Regions from separate parts of the Homo sapiens genome. Here region 1 is linked to region 2. The links come from fine-mapping of genetic effects on gene expression. A gene starts in region 2. The other region holds a variant in brackets. All regions are shown on one strand. Distances are from middle to middle.

Region 1 (5,381 bases), 50 kb after region 2:
ATCTCATTTCAGCCACTTTCTAACTATGTGATCTTGAGGAAGTTTCTTAATAATATCTTCTTCATAGAATCACAATGAGTCACAAAAATAATACAAAGTCCTATCTATTTGTGGGGCCTGGAGATCTACATATCATATTTATAAATAGTTAAAAGTTTAAATCAAGTTAGTGATAGATCGAATGCAATTTCTATCAAAATTTCAGTTGCCTTCTTTGCATAAATTGACAAGCGGATCCTAAAATTCATATGGATATGTAAAGAACTTCAAATAGCCAAAATAATCTTGAGAAAGAAAAACAATTGGAGGATTCACACTTATCACAAAACTCACTACACAACTACAGTAATCAAGACATAAAAATCAAGACATTAAAAATAGACATACAAACCAATAGAATGGAATTGAGAGGCCAAAAATAAAACATTACGTTTACAGCCAATTGTGCTAAGACAATTCAGTGGGGGAAAGAGTAGGCTTTTCAATAAATGGTGCTGGTACAACTAGATGAAGCTGAGACCCCTTCCTCACACAAACATAAATGAACTAAAAATGAACTATAGATCTAAATGTAAGAGCTTACACTATAAAACCTTCATGAGAAAGCAAAGGTGTACATTTTCATGACTTTTGATTAAGGAATCTTTTTTTTTTTTTTTTTTTTTTTTTGGAGAAGGAGTTTCACTCTTGTTGCCCAGGACTAGAGTGCAGTGATGTGATCTTGGCTTACTGCAACCTCTGCCTTCCTGTTTCAAGTGATTCTCCTGCCTCAGCCTCTGGAGTAGCTGAGACTACAGGCGCCTGCCACCATGCCTGGCTAATTTATGTATTTTTAATAGAGATAGGATTTCACCATGTTGGCCAGGCTGGTCTCGAACTCCTGACCTCGTGATCCACCCATCTCCGCCTCCCAAAGTGCTGGGATTACAGGCATGAGCCACCACGCCCAGCCTAAAAAATGGTCTTTTAAATATGAACAAAAAGCAGAAAGCAACCAAAGAAAATATAAATAAATTAAACTTCAAAGTTAGAAGTTCTTGTGCTTCAAAGGACACTACAACAAAAATATAAGGTCAACCCACTGAATGTGAGAAAACATTTGCAAATTGTCAGGCCTCTGAGCCCAAGCAAAGCCAGCATATGCCCTGTGACCTGCACGTATACATCCAGATGACCTGAAGCAACTGAAGATCCACAAAAGAAGAGAAAATAGCCTTAACTGATGACATTCCACCATTGTGATTTGTTCCTGCCCCATCCTAACTGACATGATATAGTCTCCCCTGCCCTTAAGAAGGTGCTTTGTAATATTCTCCCCAGCCCTTAAGAATGTACTTTGTATGCCTATCCCAAACCTATAAGAACTAATGATAATCCTACTACCCTTTGCTGACTTCTTTTTTGGACTCAGCCCGCCGGCACCCAGGTGAAATAAACAGCCTTATTGCTCACACAAAGCCTGCTTGGTGCTCTCTTCACACAGACGCGTGTGACATTTGGTGCCAAAGACCCGGGACAGGTGGACTCCTTTGGGAGATCAGTCCCCTGTCCTTGCCCTCACTCCATGAGGAGACCCACCTACAACCTCGGGTCCTCAGACCAACCAGCCCAAGGAACATCTCACCATTTCAAATCAGGTAAGCGGTCTTTTCACTGTTCTCCAGTCTCTCTTGCTACCCTTCAATCTCCCTGTCCTTCCAATTCCAGCTCTTTTTCCTCTCTAGTAGAGACAAAAGAGATACATTTTATCCATGGACCCAAAACTCCAGCGTCGGTCACGGACTCGGGAAGACAGTCTTCCCTTGGTGTTTAATCACTGTGGCGATGCCTGCCTGAATATTCACCCACACTCCATTGATGTCTGATTACCGTGGGGACGCCTGCCTTGGTCATTCACCCACATTACCTCAGTGGCAGGTCAATTGCGGGGACACCTGCTTTGGCTGCTCATCCACATTGCAGCCCAGGGCTGCTCACCGCCCCCCACTGCCCCTTCTCCGTGTCTCTACCTTTCTCTTTAAACTCACCTCCTTCACTATGGGCAACCTTCCGCCCTCCATTCCCCCATCTTCTCCCTTAGCCTGTGTTCTTAAAAACCTAAAACCCCTTCGACTCACACCTGACCTAAAACCTAAACACTTTATTTTCTTCTGCAATACTGCTTGGCCCCAGTACAAACTCGACAGTAGTTCCAAGTAGCCAGAAAACGGCACTTTTGATTTCTCCATTTTACAAGACCTGGATGATTTTTGTCGAAAAATGGACAAATGGTCTGAGGTGCCTGACGTCCAGGCATTCTTTTACACATCAGTCCCTCCCTAGTCTCTGTTCCCAATGTGACTCATCCCAAATCTTTCTTCTTTCTCTCCTGTCTGTTCCTTCAGTCTCCACCCCAAGTTCTGAGTCCTTTGAATCCTTCTTTTCTATGGACTCATCTCACCTCTCCCCTTCTCGCCAGGCTGCTCCTCACCAGGCCGAGCCAGGTCCCAATTCTTCCTCAGCCTCTGCTCCCCCACTGTATAATCCTCCTATCATCTCCCCTCCTCACACCCGGTCTGGCTTACAGTTTCGTTCCACGACTAGCCCTCCCTCACCTGCCCAACAGTTTCCTCTTGAAGAGGTGGCTAGAGCTAAAGGCATAGTCAAGGTTAATGCTCCTTTTTTCTTTATCCGACCTCTCCCAAATGAGTTAGCATTTAGGCTCTTTTTCGTCAAATATAAAAACCCAGCCCAGTTCATGGCCTGTTTGGCAACAACCCTTAGACACTTTACTGTCCTAGACCCCAGAGGAAGGCTGTCTTATTCTCAATATGCATTTTATTACCCAATCTGCTCCCGACATTAGAAAAAGCTCCAAAAATTAGATTCCAGCCCTCAAACCCCACAAGAAGACCTAATTAACCTCCCCTTCAAGGTGGTATACAATAATAGAATAGAGGCAGCCAAGTGGCAACGTATTTCTGAGTTGCAATTACTTGCCTCCACTTTGAGAGAAACCCCAGCCACATCTCCAGCATACAAGAACTTCAAAACGTCTGAACCACAGTAGCCAGGTGTTCCTCCAGGACTGCCTCCCCCAGGAGATTGTTTCAAGTGCTGGAAATCTGGCCACTGGGCCAAGGAATGCTCGCAGCCTGGGATTCCTCCTAAGCCATGTGCCAACTGTGCAGGACCCCACTGGAAATTGGACTGTCCAACTCGCCCGGCAGCCACTCCCAGAGCCCCTGGAATTCTGGCCTAAGGCTCTCTGACTGACTCCTTCCCAGATCTTCTTGGCTTAGCAGCTGAAGACTGATGC[C/T]GCCCGATCTCCTTGGAGGCCCCCCGGACAATCACTGATGCCGAGCTTTGCGCAACTCTTACAGTGGAGGGTAAGGCCGTCCTCTTCTTAATTAATATGGAGGCTACCAACTCCACATTACCTTCTTTTCAAGGGCCTGTTTCCCTTGCCTCCATAACTGTTGTGGGTATTGACGGCCAGGCTTCTAAACCTCTTAAAACTCCCCAACTCTGGTGCCAACTTGAACAACATTCCTTAATGCAGTCCTTTTGAGTTATCCCCACTTGCCCAGCTCCCTTATTAGGTCGAGACATTTTAACTAAATTATCTGCTTCCCTGACTATTCCTGGGCTACAGCCGTACCTCATTGCCGCCCTTTTCCCCAGTTCGAAGTCTCCTTCACATCCTCACCTTGTATCTCCCCACCTTAATCCACAAGTATGGGATACCTCTACTCCCTCTTTGGCAACCGATCATGTGCCCCTTACCATCCCATTAAAACCTAATCACCCTTACCCAGCTCAACGCCAATATCCCATCCCACAACAGGCTTTAAGAGGATTAAAGCCTGATATCACTTGCCTGCTACAGTATGGCCTTTTAAAGCCTATAAATTCTCCTTACAATTCTCACATTTTACCTGTCCAAAAACCGGACGAGTCTTACAGGTTAGTTCAGGATCTGAACCTTATCAACCAAATTGTCTTGCCTATCCACCCCGTGGTGCCAAACCCATATACTCTCCTATCCTCCACACCTCCCTCCACAACCCATTATTCTGTTCTAGATAAACCTAGCTGACCCCATAAATCCTAAATCCTTCCCCTACTCCCCTTTCCATTCCTTAAAAAACAGCCCTAAAAGCTGCTCTCACACTAGCTCTCCCTAACTCATCCCAACCCTTTTCATTACACACAGCCGAAGTACAGGGCTGTGTGGTCAGAATTCTTACACAAGAACCGGGACCGCGCTCTGTAGCCTTTCTGTCCAAACAACTTGACCTTACTGTTTTAGCCTAGCCATGTCTGCGTGTGGCGGCTGCCACTGCTTTAATACTTTTAGAGGCCCTCAAAATCACAAGCTATGCTCCACTTACTCTCTACAGTTCTCATAACTTTCAAAATCTATTTTCCTCCTCACACTTGATGCATATACTTTCTGCCCCTCAGCTCCTTCAGCTATACTCCCTCTTTGTTGAGTCTCCCACAATTACCATTGCTCCTGGCCCAGACTTCAATCTGGCCTCCCACATTATTCCGGATACCACACCTGATCCCCATGACTGTATCTCTCATCCATGTGACAGTCACTCCATTTCCCCATATTTCCTTCTTTCCTATTTCTCATCCTGATCACACTTGGTTTATTGATGGCAGTTCCACCAGGGCTAATTGCCACTCACCAGCAAAGGCAGGCTATACTATAGTATTTTCCATGTTTATCATTGAGGCTACCACTCTGCCCCCCTCCACTACTTCTCAGCAAACCGAACTCATTAATCTCTCCCACTCTAGGTTCCCATGCTGCCCCTAATCCCTTTCAAAGCAGCCCTGAGAACATCACCCATTATCTCTCCATACCACCCCCAAAAATTTTCGCCACCCCAACACTTCACCACTATTTTGTTTTGTTTTTCTTATTAATATAAGAAGACAGGGATCTCAGGCCTCTGAGCCCAAGCAAAGCCATCATATCCCCTGTGACCTGCAGGTATACATCCAGATGGCCTGAAGCAACTGAAGATCCACAAAAGAAGTGAAAATAGCCTTAATTGATGACATTCCACCCTTGTGATTTGTTCCTGCCCCACCCTAACTGATATGACATAGTCTCTGCCGCCCTTAAAAAGGTACTCTGTAATATTCTCCCCTGCCCTTAAGAAGGTACTTTGTAATATTCTCCCCTGCCCTTAAGAAGGTATTTTGTAATATTCTCCATGCCCTTAAGAATGTACTTTGTACGCCTATCCTAAACCTATAAGAACTAATGATAATCGGGCAGGCACGGTGGCTCACGTCTGTAATCCCAGCATTTGGAAGGCCGAGGTGGGTGGATCATGAGGTCAGGAGATCAAGACCACGGTGAAACCCTGTCTCTACTAAAA
Region 2 (5,381 bases):
ATTCAGTATTTAATAGCAACCTACCGCACAGGCCCAGCAGCAAAAGAGATCTTGCTGCAATAGCACAGTAACCCCTGAGGCAGCATGCTAACAGAGAAGTGAGGGAGTACAGTGTGCAATGGTCTAGCAGACACCAGCTGCAGGCAAAGGCAACAGCAGCACAATCAGTGTTACTACAGTGGAGTGGATGAGAGGGAAGTCAGGAGATGAGTTCAGAGAACTAGTCAGGGACTAGATCACACAGGGCTTTAAAGCCATTGTAAGCCTGTTTTTCTTTTCTTTTTTTTTTCTTTCTTTTTTTTTGTGATTCTGATAAGAAGCCACCAGAAGGTTTTGAAGGGAAATGAAAGTTCTGAGTATGTATGACAAAAATCACTGCTATTTGGAAAAGACTGTAGAGGAGCAAGGGCAGAGGCAGAGACTTCTCAATCATGTAGGTAGGAGAGGACTGTGGCTTAGCTTAGAGAGGGAGAGAGAGGTGGGCAGATCTGGGTAGAGTCAACAGATTTTGTTGGATGCTTGGATGCGGAGTCTGACCTAAAAAGAGAAGTCAAGAGTAAATTCCTAGAATTCCGGCCTACTTGAATGGCAGTAACTGAGGCTGTTTATTGAGATAAGGGAGGGAGCTGAGGGGAAACAGAGGGAGAACTTGGTGAATCTGGCATCAGTAGTTCTATCTGTCCATACTAAATTTAAATGCCTATCAGACTTCCAAGTGGAGATGCTGAGTAAACAGCTGGACATACACATACATCTGGAGCTCAGAAGCGAACTAAAGCTAGGAATAAAATTTTGGAAGTCATCAGCTGATAGATATTATTTATAGCCAAGGAATATGGCTTGGGATACAAATTGTCCTGGGGGAAAGTATGGCTAGAAAAATATGGCCAAGAAATGAACTCTGTGGCATACTAAGATTTAGTGGTGGGGAAGCCTGGAGACACAATGAAGCAGAATGAAATGCAGAATATGGTGACCTGGAAGCCAAGTGAAGAAGAAAGAATATTAGTGAAGAACATTAGTGAAGAAAAAAGAATATTGAGGAGGGAGTGATCAAATGTTACTGAGGGGTCAGGAAAGATGAGAACTGTGCACAGACACTGGATTTCACAAGACAGTCATTGGCAACATCAGGACCATGCAGGGGGTAATGGGGACAAAAAGCCTCAGATGAGAGGGGGTAGGAAGAAACAGGGAAAATGAAAATGGAGACTTAGATTAAATCTTTCAAAGAGGATTTTTGTTTGTTATAAAAAGAAGCAAAGTAGGGGAGCGGGACCTAGAATGGGATGTGTGGTCTAGGGGGGATTAAAGACAGAAGATTTAACAGCAGATATTTGTTAAATGAATACATTTTAAGAATAGCATAAGGAACAAATGACTCAACACAGATGCCCATGATTCAACAGTGTAAACATGGTTTATACTTCAAGTTCCATACGGTAAGGCGTACATGTCACATTTACTTTGCTTCAAATGTAGGTGTCAATATTCTATACCTGCTTATCTATTTTCTGATTTGAATGAGATATAAAGTGGAGTTGCTTAACTCCATTTATAACCATCCTACTACTTCAAAATATTAAAATGTAAGGATTGATGGGCTGATAGGTGCAGCAAACCACCATGGCACACGTTTATCTATGTAACAAACCTGCAAGTCCTGCACATGTATCCCAGAACATAAAATTAAATTAAACAATAAAAAAATAGAAATACAGATTCTGGAAATCAAGCTTACCAAATTAAACCTTCAGAGGTGGGGGGATGCATTTTAAACAAAAGTCCCAAATGCGTCTTACCATCAGGCTTGTTTGAAAAACACTAATCTAAGGAATACTAAACACTTGGAGAAGGACAAGTTCTTCTCCTGTGTAGACGTGCAATGTGGGTTCAGGGGATGACACTTCAACTCTATATAATGGTGTATTTTTACCTCCAGATCATATAGCCTTTCCCACCCTTGCTTTTCAAAATTAAAAGGATAAATTAAAAAATAATAATAAATATGAGAATATTTTAAAATACTTTCTTTAAGAAGTTTACTACCGTGGAAAGCTGGAGAGGTCCTAATACACTGAAAACTAGCTCACAGCTGCCAGTCAAATTATTTTTATCCAAATTAGCTTTGCACAAAAAGCCAAGTAGGAAAACCCATGCCAAAACCTCCAGCACTGGCTCTGTGTGCCTGGCAGGGGCTCATGCAGAGCCTTTAGAGCATTTAAGACTCTGGGCTATTTGCTTATGGTTCTGAGGTGTCTTTTCGAAAATGGGTTTTCTAGTCAAAATGAAACAAAAAGGCAGACAGCTGTGTGGATTTTCCCTTCAGAGTAAGCCAAGTGACGGAAAGGCCTGCCCGCCCCGCTGGGGACAACAGCGCCAGCACCCGCGCCGTCGGGTCGGGTAGGCTGGGGAGGTAGCGCAGGCGGCCTGGCCCCCAGACCACCCCGCGCCCCTGGCGGCCTGGCCCCAGCCCACCCCGCGCCCCCGGCGGCGGCCCCCGCCCTAGCGCCCGGTACTTGCCTGCAGGCGAGCGCCACCACAGTCAGCCCGCGGCTTTTCTGTCTTCCTTTCTGGCCCAGCGAGAGCGCCCAGGGGGTGGGCGTCTTGCCCCGGGCGTCGAGAGTTTGGGGCCGTCCCGTACGCGGCGCGCCGCAACCCAGTCCCCGCGACCACAGCAGCCTGCTCCCCACCGCGCTTGCAGAGCCCGGACGCGCGTGAGTCGGGGGCCCGCAGAGGCCTCACCCTTGGAGGTCGCCGCTTGTCAGGCCTGACTGCTGTTGGCGCCCACCCCGCCGCCCCCGAGGGGCCGCTCGAGGCCGGACTGCTGCTTTGCCGTGGCAGGCCCCACCCGGGACGTGGCGCTGCGGGCCGGGGCGGTCCAGCTGTGAGTCAGGGGTTAATGTGGCGGGATAACTCTCTGCAGAGGGAAGGAGCTCGCAAAGAAGGGTGGAGGAGGGGAAACCGCAATGGGGAACTGTCACCGAGGCTAGTGGACTCTCCCTGCGCTTTTTTTTTTTTTTTTTTTTTTGGCATGTACCCCAAAAGCCAGAGGTCGAGGCCCAGAAAAATCTGGAAAGGAATTCCACCGTGTTTGCTCCTTACAGACCAGACAAACCGTAGATCTTTCAGAGGTACAGCGACTCTCCTGGTTCCCTAAGATAGTCTCGACTTTTCCTTTCCCTTTGCGGCCCTCTCACTTGACTACTGCAGCCAACCATACCCCTGATTAGGGGGTGCAGCACATCAGCCTCTGCCCCCAAAAACTACCCTGCGAAAGATCCTTTTTCTCAGGTTCGTTCTCCACAACCGAACAGATTGGAACTCCACTGAATAAGAGAGAACAAAAAAGCAATTAGTTAAATGAAGCGTAAAGAAGCCTTATAAAGCCCCATTGCTGCCTCAGGCACCCAATCTAGTCATAACCTAAGAGGTCCAGTTCAGAAATCTCCCCTCCCCTTTTAATTCTCAGGCAATCCCTACTCCCTGCCAAAGGAGAACCCAGTTACTGAACATCGGATGAGACCATGGATAGTAAATTGGGAGTGAAGGTCCATACCTGGGTCTCAGAAGCACAGTACAGGTAAAGCTAAGAGTTATTTCCTCCTTCTCTTTCCCCATCCAACAACAGGATGCCTTACTGAAGGTAGGCACTTCAGGTAGTAATTACTTAGTGAAATGCCGCCAATGTAGTCAGAAATACCGTATTATGTACCGTGTCAACACAATTCATTATTCACGGAGTTGATTCTCCAACCACTGCACCTCCCAACAATTCTACCTGAACTCTTTGGGTAAGCAGTGGCCTCCTAAATCCAACTGATACTTTTGTTGCCCTCATTTTTCCTGGGAGTCTCTTTGGCGATTGACAAAGTCGACCATTGTTTCCCAACACTCTGTTTCCTTGATGTTGACAACCCCACTTTGCCTTTATGCTCATCCTGCTTGTTAAAATTCTTTCAGGCCTGTTGGGAGGCCGAGGCGGGTGAATCACGAGGTCAGGAGATCGAGACCATCCTGGCTAACACGGTGAAACCCCGTCTCTACTAAAAAATACAAAAAATTAGCCGGGAGTGGTGGCAGCTGCCTGTAGTCCCAGCTACTTGGGAGGGTGAGGCAGGAGAATGGCTTGAACCCGGGAGGCGGAGCTTGCAGTGAGCCGAGATCGCGCCACTGCACTCCAGCCTGGGCCACAGAGTGAGACTCCGTCTCAAAAAAAAAAAAAAAAAAAAAAAATTCTTCTTTCAGTTTCCTCTGCCTGTTCCTCTTTCTCTGGCAACCCTTCAAAATCAGAGCTTTTCACATTTTCCCACTGAAATACCACCAATGACAGATTCCATAAACACGTACTTCCCTATTCATCACTTAGGTTGCATACATAAAAGAGCCTGAAGTCACTAGTGTCATGGGCAAATTTACTTGAACTGTTCCATCTTCTTGTAAATTGCTCCAAATTTTGCATTGTTCTTCATAATACAGTCACATGTACTAAAAAAAATCTTAAATTGGTTACAAGTTTAATTGCTTAACATTTTCTCTCCAAATGTTCAAGAAAATGCATCAATCACTTACGCCACATATGTTTAGAATATATTCTATGTGCTAGACATTAGGGATATTGTGCGAACAGGAGACACAGTCCTAGTTCTCATGGAGATTTTATAGTCTAATCTGGGAGACAGACAGATATGTAAAGAAGTGAGACAATTTCAGATCCGTGCATTGCTAATGGGGACAGCGAATCTTCCTAGTGGGCAATTTCTAGCTACATACCTGGTTATTCACATTCAAGAAAGGAGGGGACGACATGACAAACTGATAAATATACTGACTTACAGGCAGTGTCTAATGGATTGTCCAGCTTTTAGGTTCTTGGAAAGAACAAAATGGAAAATTTGTAAAAGATCTGTCCGTGAGACTTACAGATAACCCTCTTGGAGTGGTGAGGGCATGTGAAGATATTCATATCCCCCATAAGTGCCTAACAGGATGCATCAGGTGGAGAAGATTTTCAATAATAAGCGGAACAAGATGAATTGTCTGGTAGATGTCAGTCTTTTTCTCCAGCCAACCCAGGGCTTGGTTAATGGGCCCATGTACCAAGTGGCTATCAAAGCAGTGACAGAGGTTCAATAGTATGGTCTTCTCCTTACCTACATTATTTGGCTACTATCATTGCCGAATGCCCAACCTGGCAACAACGTGGAGTGTGACTACATTTCCAAGGCTGGGTTCCTAATATGGCATTACTGTCAATGAGACTTGCTGGCAACCCGGTAACATGATGGTTACATTGGGCAATTTCCATAAGAAATAGGTAGCACTTTGTCTTCACAAAGATAATTCACATTCAAGGTATAAATCTGCATTCTCTGCCTGCA

What was found. PIP is the estimated chance that this variant, and not a neighbour inherited with it, causes the effect. A credible set is the group of variants that fine-mapping cannot tell apart.
Region 1: its variant is the best candidate, but not a certain one, in a credible set for the expression of TICAM2-AS1 in tibial artery (GTEx, PIP 0.85).

The regions. Positions count from the first base shown.
Region 1 is chr5:115,649,713-115,655,093 of GRCh38, forward strand. All of the region lies in intron 3 of LOC102467217 (a long non-coding RNA gene), which reads right to left. Among named protein-coding and RNA genes, the nearest start is that of TMED7-TICAM2, 26 kb to the left of the region's middle. The variant C/T (reference allele first, on the strand shown) is at 3,299.
Region 2 is chr5:115,599,574-115,604,954 of GRCh38, forward strand. TICAM2-AS1 (TICAM2 antisense RNA 1) reads left to right here and starts at 2,582. Exons shown (of 3, transcript NR_109875.1): 1 at 2,582-2,887; 2 at 3,473-3,583. The region is part of intron 3 of TMED7-TICAM2 (TMED7-TICAM2 readthrough); the gene reads right to left. It overlaps TICAM2 (TIR domain containing adaptor molecule 2), which reads right to left and starts at 2,906. Exons shown (of 2, transcript NM_021649.7): 1 at 2,524-2,906. RefSeq lists enhancers at 2,228-2,307, 2,256-2,778 and a silencer at 2,398-2,897.